3 separate regions of the Homo sapiens genome follow, and all the other regions are linked to region 3. Evidence: fine-mapped expression QTL. A gene starts in region 3. Each other region holds a variant in brackets. All regions are shown on one strand. Distances are between the middles of the regions. Region 1 overlaps FAM13A (family with sequence similarity 13 member A). Region 2 overlaps FAM13A (family with sequence similarity 13 member A). Region 3 holds the start of FAM13A (family with sequence similarity 13 member A).

The links. PIP is the estimated chance that this variant, and not a neighbour inherited with it, causes the effect.
Region 1: its variant is fine-mapped to the expression of FAM13A in whole blood (INTERVAL, PIP above 0.99).
Region 2: its variant is fine-mapped to the expression of FAM13A in monocytes (Quach 2016, PIP 0.95). The same link has a PIP of 0.9 or more in monocytes after LPS.

What each region holds. Positions count from the first base shown.
Region 1 is chr4:88,931,578-88,935,824 of GRCh38, forward strand. The region is part of intron 5 of FAM13A (family with sequence similarity 13 member A); the gene reads right to left. All of the region lies in intron 1 of LOC105377327 (a long non-coding RNA gene), which reads left to right. Among named protein-coding and RNA genes, the nearest start is that of FAM13A, 120 kb to the right of the region's middle. The variant A/G (reference allele first, on the strand shown) is at 2,233.
Region 2 is chr4:88,820,854-88,825,100 of GRCh38, forward strand. All of the region lies in intron 7 of FAM13A (family with sequence similarity 13 member A), which reads right to left. Among named protein-coding and RNA genes, the nearest start is that of FAM13A-AS1, 110 kb to the left of the region's middle. RefSeq lists enhancers at 1,763-2,450, 2,451-3,137. The variant A/T (reference allele first, on the strand shown) is at 1,578.
Region 3 is chr4:89,054,948-89,059,194 of GRCh38, forward strand. It overlaps FAM13A (family with sequence similarity 13 member A), which reads right to left and starts at 2,238. Exons shown (of 24, transcript NM_014883.4): 1 at 1,991-2,238. The coding sequence starts at 2,017. RefSeq lists an enhancer at 1,539-2,101.

The DNA of each region.
Region 1 (4,247 bases), 120 kb before region 3:
CTTACTATTCTGGTCCCTCTCTGTGAAGGAGACATATACTACTGGGTCTATTCAGCCATCTTGATCTCAACTCTATGATCTGTCATGCTATTTAATCATTGCATTTTAAAAATACATCATTTAACTTTTTTTAACCTCCAAATTCAGAATCTACCTAAAAATTATAACTCACGATCAAAAGAAGGATTTGTTCTGAAGAAAGGAACAAATGAATTCTAAATAAGTGCCACCTCTGAGTTTCATAAATGCTCAAAATGATAACATATAGATTTTGGTGGGTACAAGCTAGTCATTCTCACTATGTAAGTTTACCTACACAAAAGGAGAGATAATACAATCAGATTACAAAGAAGCAAACAACAAAAAGCCAAAAACATCTTTTATTTCCTGTTATAACTCTCCTGCTGCTCAGAAGGTTCTAATATTCTTGAGGGGCTACAGAAGAGGTTAGGAATAGTGAAGACATATAGGAGTCAGAAGAACAGAGTTCAACTACTTTCCTGACACTGACACTAAGTTGCTACAGTACATACTCATTAAATGAAAACACATATAAAAGCTCATGGCACTGATGGCCTCAGTTAAATCTCTAAGATTTTGGTTATTTCTCTACTTTGCCTCTAATCAGTACTTTCTTGATTTCAAAACCCAGCTCTGTCATTTACTGTTGTGTGATCTTAAGCAATTTATCATTACATTTCCTCATCTGTAAACCAGTATTAAGATCAATTACTTGTGAGGTTACTGTCAGTAGTAAATGAGATACATATATAGAAGAATTTGGCACAATGTCTAGCATAAAGCCCTATTCTCCCTTTTGCCCCTGTGTTCCTACACTGAGTTTGTTTGTTTCTTTTAGACTGTAAGGTCCCCCAAGGACAGGGACATGTCTTATTTATTTTCTGAAGCTCTCCAGCACTTAGTACAAAGCTTTGCCCAGAGTAGTTTTGCATTAAATAAGAAAAAAGTGAATAAACATTTGTTGAAGTTAATTGTGCTTAGGCTGTGGCCCTAAATGAAAATGGAGACACATGCAATGTTTTTGAGCATGAAAAAGATATGGGAAATGGTTTAGGAAGTTTCTGTGATATATCAGTTTATATGGTAAGTGACTTTGATTCTACATAAACAATATTAAATTTTTTGACCGGAAAGTCAAATACACAAAAAAATGAGCTTTGTGGTCAAACTTGCCATAACATTTATTAATGTGGGCACTTCCTTCGAACTAATCGCTATGGAAGGCCATTCTAATATTTTGCTTTGCTCAGAGCATTTGTTAGTAACTGTTTTGAGAGTTTGCTTAAAAGTCATATAAGAAAATCAACATAATTATTTTATAGCCAGATTTAAATTTTAAACCCAAAAGTTAACATATAATCAGCACTCCTCAACTTAGTGATATGCCATAGGTTAAAATGACTATTGATTACTTCCCACAATCAAATAAAGCATTAAAGTACGAAGATTTCCCAGTCCAATGATATACAGAAAAATATGGTATATGAATGACATATATATGCTCTGAAGACAACTTTAAAATTCCAAAAGATATAATGAGCAACAGCAACACTGTCTAATAAAGAAAGTCTTATAACATGTTTATCTGGAATAGGCTCATATTCATCTAGATATTTCTAGATAGATACTTAGCAATATGCTCATCACATTATTTTATAGGATGCATATATATGAGGTTTGCATGAACCCTATTACATATATATTCATAACTCTTATACACAAACTGGACAACAAGACAAACCAGGCTCATAGACTACTGTCCCCCTCAATATCTGCCACCCTTCTGGGTAAATTCAGGGTCAATAAGGAGAAACCATCAATATCTTTATCTCCCATCTCTTTGCCTTCTCCTTTCCCATAATTTTCTCTTCTCCTTCACTTTAGTCCCTCATGCTCATAAACCCAATCTAAGCCTTATTTTCACTCCAGATAGCTCAACCTCCAAAATCAGTAATGCAAACCTCCTATTTCCTGTTTTCAGCCCCTATTCTTCTAGCTTGCTTGCTCATCTACTTCTGCCTCAAACATTCTTTAGCCTAACTACAGTCTCTAGTACCTCCTTTTGTATTGCTGTTGTATATCCTAGCTTACCTTCAGATCTTCTCATCACCTTCATTACCATCATCCATGCCCAATTTACCATTGTTTTTACCTGGACTACTGTAATAAACTCCTAATACATTGCCCTACTTCTGCCTATCCCTTTCAAGA[A/G]CCTAGTAATCTTTTTAATACAGAAGTCACAACGTAGCACTCTTCTGCTTAATACTGACTAATAGCTTCACTTAGAGTAAAAGTCAAAGTCCTCAAAATGATCTATGAATAGACACAATCTGCTGATCCCTTGTTTCCTTTGTGGCCTCATTTCGTTTCAATTCCATCTTGCTCATGGTAATCCAACTGTACTGGCCTCTCAACTGCTCATCAGACCAGGTATATTCACATCTCAAGACCTTTGTACTGCTCTTCTCCTTGCCTGGAATACTCTTCTCTCAAGTGTCTTCATGGCTTGCTCCCTTGCTTCCTTCAAGTCTCTACTCAAACGTTTTCTTGTCAATGAAGCATTTTAACTGTCCTATTTAAATAAGCAAAGGCCAATCCTCTACTTCTGCCTTTCCCTGCTTTATTTTACTTCACAGAATATATCACCATCTGACATACTACATATTTTCTTTTCTTTTTTATTGGCTGTTGTTTAGTGTATTTCCATGAGAATATAAGAATCATAAGAGCAGAGATTTTCATCTATTGTTCAGTATGCCTAGAACAATGCTTTGCTCCTAGTAGGCACCGAATAATTATTAACACTTGGATTTAATGAATTCAACGTATAGTCCATGGTCCATTATTTTATCCATACTTTTCTCACTAAATTTTGTGTATGTAAATATCTGGATGATTAAGTTATTTCTTGAATGGGGCTTCACTAGTGTCTGGATTTAGAACACCTTCTGAAGAGAAAATCTAGAATTATCCTGCAGCTGGAGAAATTAGACTGTGGCTGTTAGATGCCTACTGGAAAGATGTGCTTCTCCTAACCCAGTTATTCAGAAATACAGCTGTAACCTTTCATTTTGACAAAATAAAAATGTTCCTATGTAAATTCCCTTCTTGAAACCTATAAAAACAAAACTAATGAAAGAGAGAAAAGAAACCTCCAACTTAAGTGAAGTAAGAGATGGCCATAACTGTGGACCACTGACTGTGAAGACTATTTGCCAAATTCAACAAAATGTAGGCTAAAATGCCAAGGGCCAACATATACATTCTCATATTTCTCCAAATGTCACAGGGCTAAGAGGTCTATCCAAAATTTCCTTCACTGGAGTAACTAGATCTAGTCAACATGGCCAAACCATTGCAGAATCTGGAAAAACTCTGTAGGGACCTAGGTTCACTCCCAAAGAATGGCAGGGAAAGCAAAGTTGAAGGGGAAGTCATACTGACAAAACTTTTCCCCTTATTGTTACCTTGGCCTTCAGACAGAGGAAGTCTGTCTTGAAGTGAGGCTGATGAATGTGCTGTAGATGCCATGATCAATTTTGCAGCTACTGACCAGAGTCAGCTGAACAGAAACAGACATTAGGCTTTGATAGCCTATGACAGAAAAAGACTCCATCTTCCAATACTCTGGTCAAAGTTCTTTATCTAGGTCCAAATACAACCGAACATATTTCTCTGGGCCCAAATCTCCGTTTCACATGCAAGAATATATAAGAAACTTCATTCAACACTTTATGACTCTGTTCTCCAAACTGGGATATACAGAGGTATGTCAGTGTTTATGTTTAGTCCTTTTCCCCACTTAAAAGCCTTATATCTAAGTCATTTACATGAGACTTGCCTTATTCCCAACTCATATATTTTATGTCCCTGTTACTCTTGGGTCTTTATCATTTACTTTGCGCCCATTTCCTATCTTTATATTCATCCTTCCAAAAACTGAACTCATATGAAAAAATGAACAGAAAGATAACTTTTCTTTAATTACCTTCTCATTTTTCTTCTTTTTCAGTATATTAATAGTTTCATTCTGAGATTCTCAATTTCTTTTAAGCCCATCTACCTTTTAGTTTCTATCTAATGTTTCTATGATCTTTACAATTTTCAAAAAAGTCTGTTTTCTAAGCATTGTCAATGTTTACATATCTAAATGTGGCTAACATATTCTCCTTTTATTACTATGAACTCTAAAATGGCATTGGCACATCCTTTTGAAATGATTTCCA
Region 2 (4,247 bases), 230 kb before region 3:
TGCTAAATACAAACAGTGAGCATGAATTTCTTTAGCTGCTATTTAAAGCTATTCTTTTACACATCCAATTTCAATGTAGTTTCTATCCCTTGGTGCTCTTAAACAGAATGGAACAAAGCACTCCTTCCAAGAATACTGCTAAGGCTCTGGAACCTTCCTGCTTCAGGCCCATAACGGTGGGGAGAGTCCGCAATAGTCATCATTACCACGAGAGTCACAGAAATCAATAGCCAAAGATACCAAACTGGGATTTGAAGAAACAATTACACGTAAGGGCGGGAAAGTTTTCTACACAAATGCTTAAATTCACAAGGCACGCTTAACAAAGACAACCGCACAAACCTGGTCTTTACCTTCAGGAGGTTTATAACCAAAGGTAGGTACAGGCTGGCAGTAAAGATTGCAGGGAAATCAGTCAAATTAAACTCTAAGAGCTGGGTAAACATTGCGGCAGTGAATGCACGTAACAGCGCTCTTCAGAATGGTAATGCAAAGAAACAAAAGTAGCAACTCAACATTCTTGAATGCAAATTCAAATTATTCCTGCATTTATTCCTACTAGGTTCATTAATCATGACTAAAAATACAAAATAATTTACAGGAAATAATGATGGTTTTATTTTAGCTTTAATCGTTTTGATTGCCTAAACAATGTTTTAACAGTATAAAGATCTATTTTCTTCTTAACAATTATTAGAGCATCACATGGCTGGCTATTAGAGTTCAGTAGTAGCCAATATTCTTATCTAGAATACAATTCGCTTAAAACCCTTAAGAACTGATGTCATTATAAGGGGAAAAATGTCTCCAACTTTAAAGTTGGAAACCAAATCAAGACTCCACAAAGTGTTTTAGTCTCTCACAAGCTTTAAGCATGTGGACATTTTCACTGAGTTCACGTAGAAAAATTTTAGATATATTTGTAAACCACTTTCTGCTCCCTTGGATTCTTAATTTTTACAAAAGGAACTCTTTGGACACCCCCATCAGGTTCCCATGACAGTGTCCTTGTTAGTACAGTGAAGGAAAAATGACTATACTGTTTTATCTCACTGTAAGTATCTGTAGAAACCATTTTGCAAATAAGCAATGTTTTAAAGCTTATTTTTCATTGCTAAAACAAAAACATTCACTGAAATATTTGTGGCATGGTTTTTAAAAATGAAATTAGTTTTTGTCTAGTTTTTTTTATCCTTAAATAAACCACATTTACTATTTGATTTAAAATTTTTTTTTTACTAATAAAACCTTCTATAGTTTTCCTAAATGAAACATTTCTATGGAATGAAATGCCACTGCATGTAAAGCAGTTGAAGTTGAAATAGGACAATATGATTAGCAAAGGTAATGTTTAAAATCCTAAAATGTGACCTTGGGCAGCCCTGAGGCCCTCTCCATGCCTACATTCTTCACTTCTTAGTTCACAACAGTGTTCTTTTTCATAAGACCCTTTGTTTAAATTTACCTTTCTCTGCTTTGGTATAACTCCTTCGCCTCCCCCCAGACCCACAATCTATATTATAATCACGAAGGAACAAAAACAGTCTTGCACTCAATCATTCTTACTAAGCAGTTTT[A/T]AAAAATGCTATTTGTGTAATAAATCTGTCTGGAATTATTGAAGGGGAAATGTTATCCTTAACATTTATTCTCACATATTATGATGTACTTATTCATGGAAAATCCTTGCCTAGATCTGAACTCCAGAAGAGAAGAATCTTGTGATGCATTTTAAAAGGTCTTCAGCCTATCAACATCCTTTAAAATAGCCTTAGCAGGAACACTGCTAAGAAGCGGATTCAGTTTTTATTATAAACTCGCTCATTATACTTCTCAGTCCATGTTTTTCTTCAGATTTCAAAGGTATTTTCTTATATTCATTTCCATTCAGAGAAGGATATAACTAAATACAACAATCAAGTGAAAAAGATAAGTTGGGCAAAATGTCAGTAAAAGAGCAGTATAATATTTAATTTTTTCTGTTCTTAGGGAGGAACCATATGTACAACGGACTCTACACACTTTGCAGCATGTTACTAAAAGATGCCAAGTACTGGCAAAGTTATATGGCTTGATACAACTCAAAAAATACATAGCAGAATAAAATAAAATAGGAAAATACTACCTTTGCAGAGGCATGATTTCACAAGCCATTCTCGTATGTAAATTTGCAAGGGAATCTCACAACTGTCTCTTCCACGGCAAGTTTGGTCGTCTGTACAGTGAACGTCTTCTTACAGTGGCTAAGCTGGGTTGGGGGCATGAGGCTGCACCGCACGGCTGGAGAAACAACTTGCTCTGCAGTTGGCCAGTCTACTGCTGCTCTCAGCCTCCAAACTTCTTCAGGCAATGCTATTTTATCGGCTGCTTCTCTACATTTACACTGCAGTCCACTTTGACCTTTTGTTCCAGGGAAGCAGCTGAACCACCGGGCCAATCAGAGCAGCAGCTGCTGCAGCACTAAAGGCGCTCCTCCTCCTCCCCCGCACCCTACTCCTTCTGCTCCTCAATGGTCCCTCCTCCTCCTCTTCCTCCTCCTCCTTCTCTCCTCCTGCTCCTGCTCCTCAGTGGGCTTGCCTAGTTCTGGTAACTTGAAACTTTCCTCTGAGCAGTTCCACAGACAAGATTTTCAGTCTGGGGCAAGCAACCAATAACTGCAGCAAGAGCCAAGAGTCCTGTACTTCTCAACATTACAGAGACTGCCAGCAAGGATTCCATTTGTCAAGGAAAGACACTGCCCACGAAACTAAAGGTTTCTGTAGCAGAAGGCAAGAGTTATGTTGCGTCCCCTTTCTTCCTTAAAACAAAACAAAACGAAACAAAAACACTAGCCTTGAAAGGAGTGAGACTTTTCTAGAAGGAAAGCATGCCTCTAGACCCTTGCCCTACCCACATGTATTTCCTGCTGATGTTTGTTTACACTGCGGTGGTTACTAGTCGCTGGTGACATCACCCAGCGCACGTAGCTCCACTTCTGGGGAGGATACGTGCCCTAAGTCTCTGCCCAAGTTCTTAAGGGATCAGAATCCACTCTAATGAAAATTGTTTCAACTTACTATTTCTGCATTTTATTCTTATAAAACTGAATGTGTTTACACAGTTATTTTTCTCCATGAACATCAACAGCATTTTGGGGGGGTTGCTTTTTATTTTTATTTTTTTTTATAGGTAACACAAAATCAGTTTTTCCATAAAGTCTTCTAAATATTTGTTAATTATCACCTTCCCCTTATAATTTCTTCTTTGGTGTAGAATACCAGGGTGTTATTTTTAGGAACATAAATCCTAATCCATAGATTTTATACATTTTAAGAAAAATAGCAGAAATATATTTACATGATATTTTTTTCACATCATGAGTTGTAAAAAATTACAACATAGTCCAGACCATCACTTCTAGTAGTAGAAGGAACATGACATTCAGAAACAGTGAGGGCTTGTAGGCATGAGGTATCCCCTTCCCCTGTAATTTTTCCCCAATTTTATATAGATCACTCATAATTCTGAATTTAGAACACAAGGTCCTATTTATTATAAGACATCTGCTTTTCTTTGCTATACCTGCTAATAAAAACATTTTCATTGTCTGACTAAATAATCTGTGTTTATGAAAATAGATTTGCCATCCTAAAACTATCATCATACATAATGATAAACTATCAGTAACTAAAATCAGCCTTTTAAAACAAAAGGAGTTGATTTAACCCCAAACTTATTTCAACTGAAATTGTCTATACTTTTTTGATTCTAGATTTACAAATTCTAATTTGATTTTCTAGTAACATAACTTAGTTCCATATATTTCCATACCATTTTTATTTTAAAAAATCACTTTAACTCTTGCTTAACACTTTATTATTTATTTATTTATTTTTGAGATGGAGTCTTGCTCTGTCACCCAGGCTGGAGTGCTGTGGCACAATCTTGGCTCACTGCAACCTCCGCCTCCTGGGTTCAAGCGATTCTCCTTCCTCAGCCTCCCGAGTAGCTGGAATTACAGGCGCCCGCCACCATGACTGGCTAATTTTTGTGGTTTTAGTAGAGATGGGGTTTTACCATATTGGCCAGGCTGGTCTCGAACTCCTGACCTCAGGTGATCCGCCCACCTCGGCCTCCCAAAGTGCTGGGATTACTGGCTTAAGCTTAACACTTTAAATAGCTGCTTGAGGTAGAAAATCACAATTATACATCATAATATCTATTTTATTGATGAGTAAACTTGGTACTAGAAAATAACCTGTTCAAATTTA
Region 3 (4,247 bases):
TCCCTACTTCTCTCTTCCCCAAAAAGAAGGCATTTAAGCTTCAACCACCTGGCCCTTCTTTGAATCTCATATTTGAGGGGCTCTCATATCCATATACATATTAATAAATTTGTAACTCTTTTTCTCCTATTAATCTATTGCCAATTGTTTCAATAAAATTGCAGAAAGGGCAGAGGAAAAGCTTTCTCTTCACTCCTACACAAAGTAAAAAGTAGTGTATCAGCTCATTGAATGTATTAATGTGTGACTTAGTTCTCCCTTTTTTGTCACGATGTTTAAAATTTTTTTTGTTGTTCTCCAAAAGCTATCTTTTTCCAGATATGCTATGGTACAACTGTTGAAAATGTATTTCCTCCTACAGTAAAACCAAGACAGCACAATCAAAGGCCAACCTTAAGGAGAAGGGTAGAAATGATTGAGAATTACTCATCTACCAGAGTGAATAATCTCTTACACTGTGTGATTTTTATGTCAACTTTAACTGAAATTTTATACATGCTTTGGATATAAATTAAGGGAAAATATAAAGTTTTATACATGAGTCAGTGTGCATTCCAGTCAAGGTAGAGATCAATATATTGCAGGTCAAGGGAAAGAAGTAAAGATCTAATCAGACAATCAGAGATGACTACCAATCTTCATGACCTATCTGCTGCCTCATTCTACACATTTTCAGTTCTGTATTGTTTCTTTTATAAAGCTAGAAAAATAGAAGGGCCACCTCTGCAGTAAAGTAAAAGTCAGTATTTTACACATAGATAAATCAGATTTTGAAGGAAACTCTTTGGGGTGATAAAAAAAGAATAACCACATGGATACCTGGATGCTACTAAGCCTCAGAGTTAAAAGGAAGACAGAGTGACATACATGGTGCTGAAAAGTTTTGAGCCTGGAAACAAGGTCATCCTGCAGTTTCACTAAGAAAACTTAATCTATAGGGCTGGTCTACCATTTGGTGACCATTTGGTGACCATTTGGTGTCTGTGTGTCAAAAATTGCTCAGATATTTCTAAACACTTCAGAATGCCATCAGAAGCTACAGCAAATTGCAGCTCTTTCTGAAACACACACAAAAAAAGAGGATCTGGCCTGAGTGTGATTTTTTAAGTGAGCAGTTAAGGTGATAATAAGGAAGAAGATATTTCTCATTTAATACATTCTAGAAAATAAAATGTCCCTATGGAATACAATAGCAACTTGAAACATAAATATGTGTAATTCTCATACAGATATATGCATTTTCTATATAGTACAATCAAAATTTAAATTACAGCATTCTGCAAATTATATAATTGACAATTTTTGATTATTACAAAAGGTTTTGTACAAGCACCAGCAGAATAATTTAGAAATTCATAAATTCTAAAAATTCTAAAACTCCAGAAATATGCACATTTTCCCAAGGATTTTATTTCAGTGTTATTTATTAATGCTACTGTGTTATAACAACCATTCATTTCTACAGTTTAAGGATACACAAACATTTATCAACTGAGCTTCTCCACCATCACTTTCAGCAATCATGCTGAAACAGAAACTCCAGAATTACTAAACGAAAATAGAAATATAAAACAGAAAAATGTCACACACATACTCAAAAGTAATAAATTAATGGTTACTTCAATTCCTCCTCAAGCTAGCCACAAGATTTCTCTAATAGCTATAATGAAGCATTCATGTTTAACTATTCAGGGACAAGAAAGTCTAAAATGCTTGAAAGTGCTCTACTTTAAATCAAGTTGACTTAACGGAATAAATCAGCATGCATCTTTCACCTTTTTTGGAAACTAAAGTGCACAAATATGCTGAATGCCATCCCAAATCCTGCCTAATACCCATTTAAGTAGATAGGAATTTAAGTAACAAATCTTTCCCCACCTCCTGGGAAGGAAAAATAAGTTACACAAACATCTCATCAAAACAAGGAAGGCAAGGCCCTCTCCTAAAAACTGGCAGTAAACACAGAAGACAGAAGAAGGCCTATACTTACACAGATGGCTAGAGCTCCTGCCCCCATTCTCTCAGAAAGCGTCTGGAAGAACTGAGGAAGACCAGACGAAAATATTAAAACGACAGCAAAATACTAAAATTCCATTCAGCACATATTCTTTGATGTGAAAAACAGCTCCCAATGCAAAGGCCCCAAGGTAAGCGAAGAGCAGCTTCTAACATTTTAGGAAGAGTGGTTTTGCTTCTCTTTCCGCTGAACCCACATGGCTGGAAGGACTGCCTGGAGTTGAAATTTGATCCACAGCCTCAGTGCTGGCAAGTAGAGGGAGTCACGTGACACGGGTCTTAAGTCGCTGACATCTTTTTTTCAAACCTGACTCCCTAGATCCTACACACAGGCTTCTTTGACTCCGAAAACTGCCAGTCACCTGGTGGCTTTCATTAATAGAACCAACAGTGCATAAAGTGAAAACACAGACTTGCTTCCCAGATTCCACACAGCTCTAAGCAAAATGTACGTATTCAGACTCAGGTTTAAAACTGCAGGCACATTATTCATTTTTTCTGAGGCAGTTTTCTCTTCTACTCTTCCTTAGAAACCAGCTAAATTCTACCAAAATTTTCTTCCTTCCATGCTACCCCATCAGAATTGTTTTAAATGAAAATGCTCTATTTTATGTAGCCGTTACTACTTCTAATTATGTATGAGTTGTCTTATAAAAATATACTGATGATAAACATAAACAACATACTTCTAGACAACCATAATTCTACATATGTGATTTGCAGTCTGAAAAATTAGCTAACTGACTTTTCAATAACTTTCTCTTCCACATGCTGTCACTAGAAAATTTGATAGATTTTAAAATTTACAAATATTTGAACTAATAGCTAAAATAGCCACTTCAGGTAAGCCAAAAGGAAACTATCCTATTTTTATTTTTGTTACCATTTTTTCTGTCAATTTGTTTTTCTTTTTTCTTTTGCTGTACCTATTGACCCATCCTCTAAGTTCTCTCCCCTCACCCCCAACCTCCCAACAGGCCCTGATGTGTGTTGTTTCCCCTTTGTGTCCATGTGTTCTCAATGTTCAACTCCCACTTATGAGTGAGAACATGTGGTGTCTGGTTTTCTGTTCCTGTGGTAGTTTGCTGAGGATGACGGCTTCTAGCTTCATACATGTCCATGCAAAAGACATGATCTTGTTCCTTATTATGGCTGCATAGTATTCCATGGTGTATATGTACCACATTTTCTTTATCCAGTCTATCATTGATGGGCATTTGAGTGGGTTCCATGTCTTTGCTATTGTAAACAGTGCTGCGATAAACATATGTGTGTATGTGTCTTTATAGCAGAATGATTTATACTCCTTTGGGTATATACCCAGTAATGGGACTGCTGGGTCAAATGGTATTTCTGGTTCTAGATCCTTGAGGAATCTCCATACTGTCTTCCACAATGGTTGAACTAATTACATTCCCACGGACAGTGTAAAAGCGTTCCTATTTCTCCACATCCTCTCTAGCATCTGTTGTTTCCTGACTTCTCAATAATTGCCATTCTAACTGGCTCGAGATAGTATCTCATTGTGGTTTTGATTTGCATTTCTCTGATGATCAGTGATGGTGAGCTTTTCTTCATAGGTTTGTTGGCTACATAAATGTCTTCTTTTGAGAAGTGTCTGTTCATATCCTTTGCCCACTTTTTGATGGGGTAGTTTGTCTTTTTCCTGTAAATTTGTTTAAGTTCCTTATGGATTCTGGATATGAGACCTTTGTCAGATGCATAGTTTGCAAATATTTTCTCCCATTCTGTAGGCTGCTTGTTCACTCTGATGATAGTTTCTTTTGCTGTGCAAAAGCTCTTTAGTTTAATTAGATCCCATTTGTCAATTTTGGCTTCTGTTGCCATTGCTTTTGGCATTTTTGTCTCTGCCCATGCCTATGCCCTGAATGGTATTGCCTAGGTTTTCTTCTAGGGTTTTTATAGTTTTGGGTTTTACATTTAAGTCTTTAATCCATCTTGAGATAATTTTTGTATAAGGTCTAAGGAAGGGGTCCAGTTTCAGTTTTTTGCATATAACTAGCCAGTTTTCCCAGGACCATTTACTGAATGGGAGATCATTTTCCCATTGCTTGTTTTTTGTCAGATTTGACGAAGATTAGATTGTTGTAGACATGTGGTGTTATTTCTGAGGTCTCCGTTCTGCTCCATTGGTCTGTATGTCTGTTTTGGTACCAGTACTGTGCTGTTTTGGTTACTGTAGCCTTGTAGTATAGTTTGAAGTCAGGTAG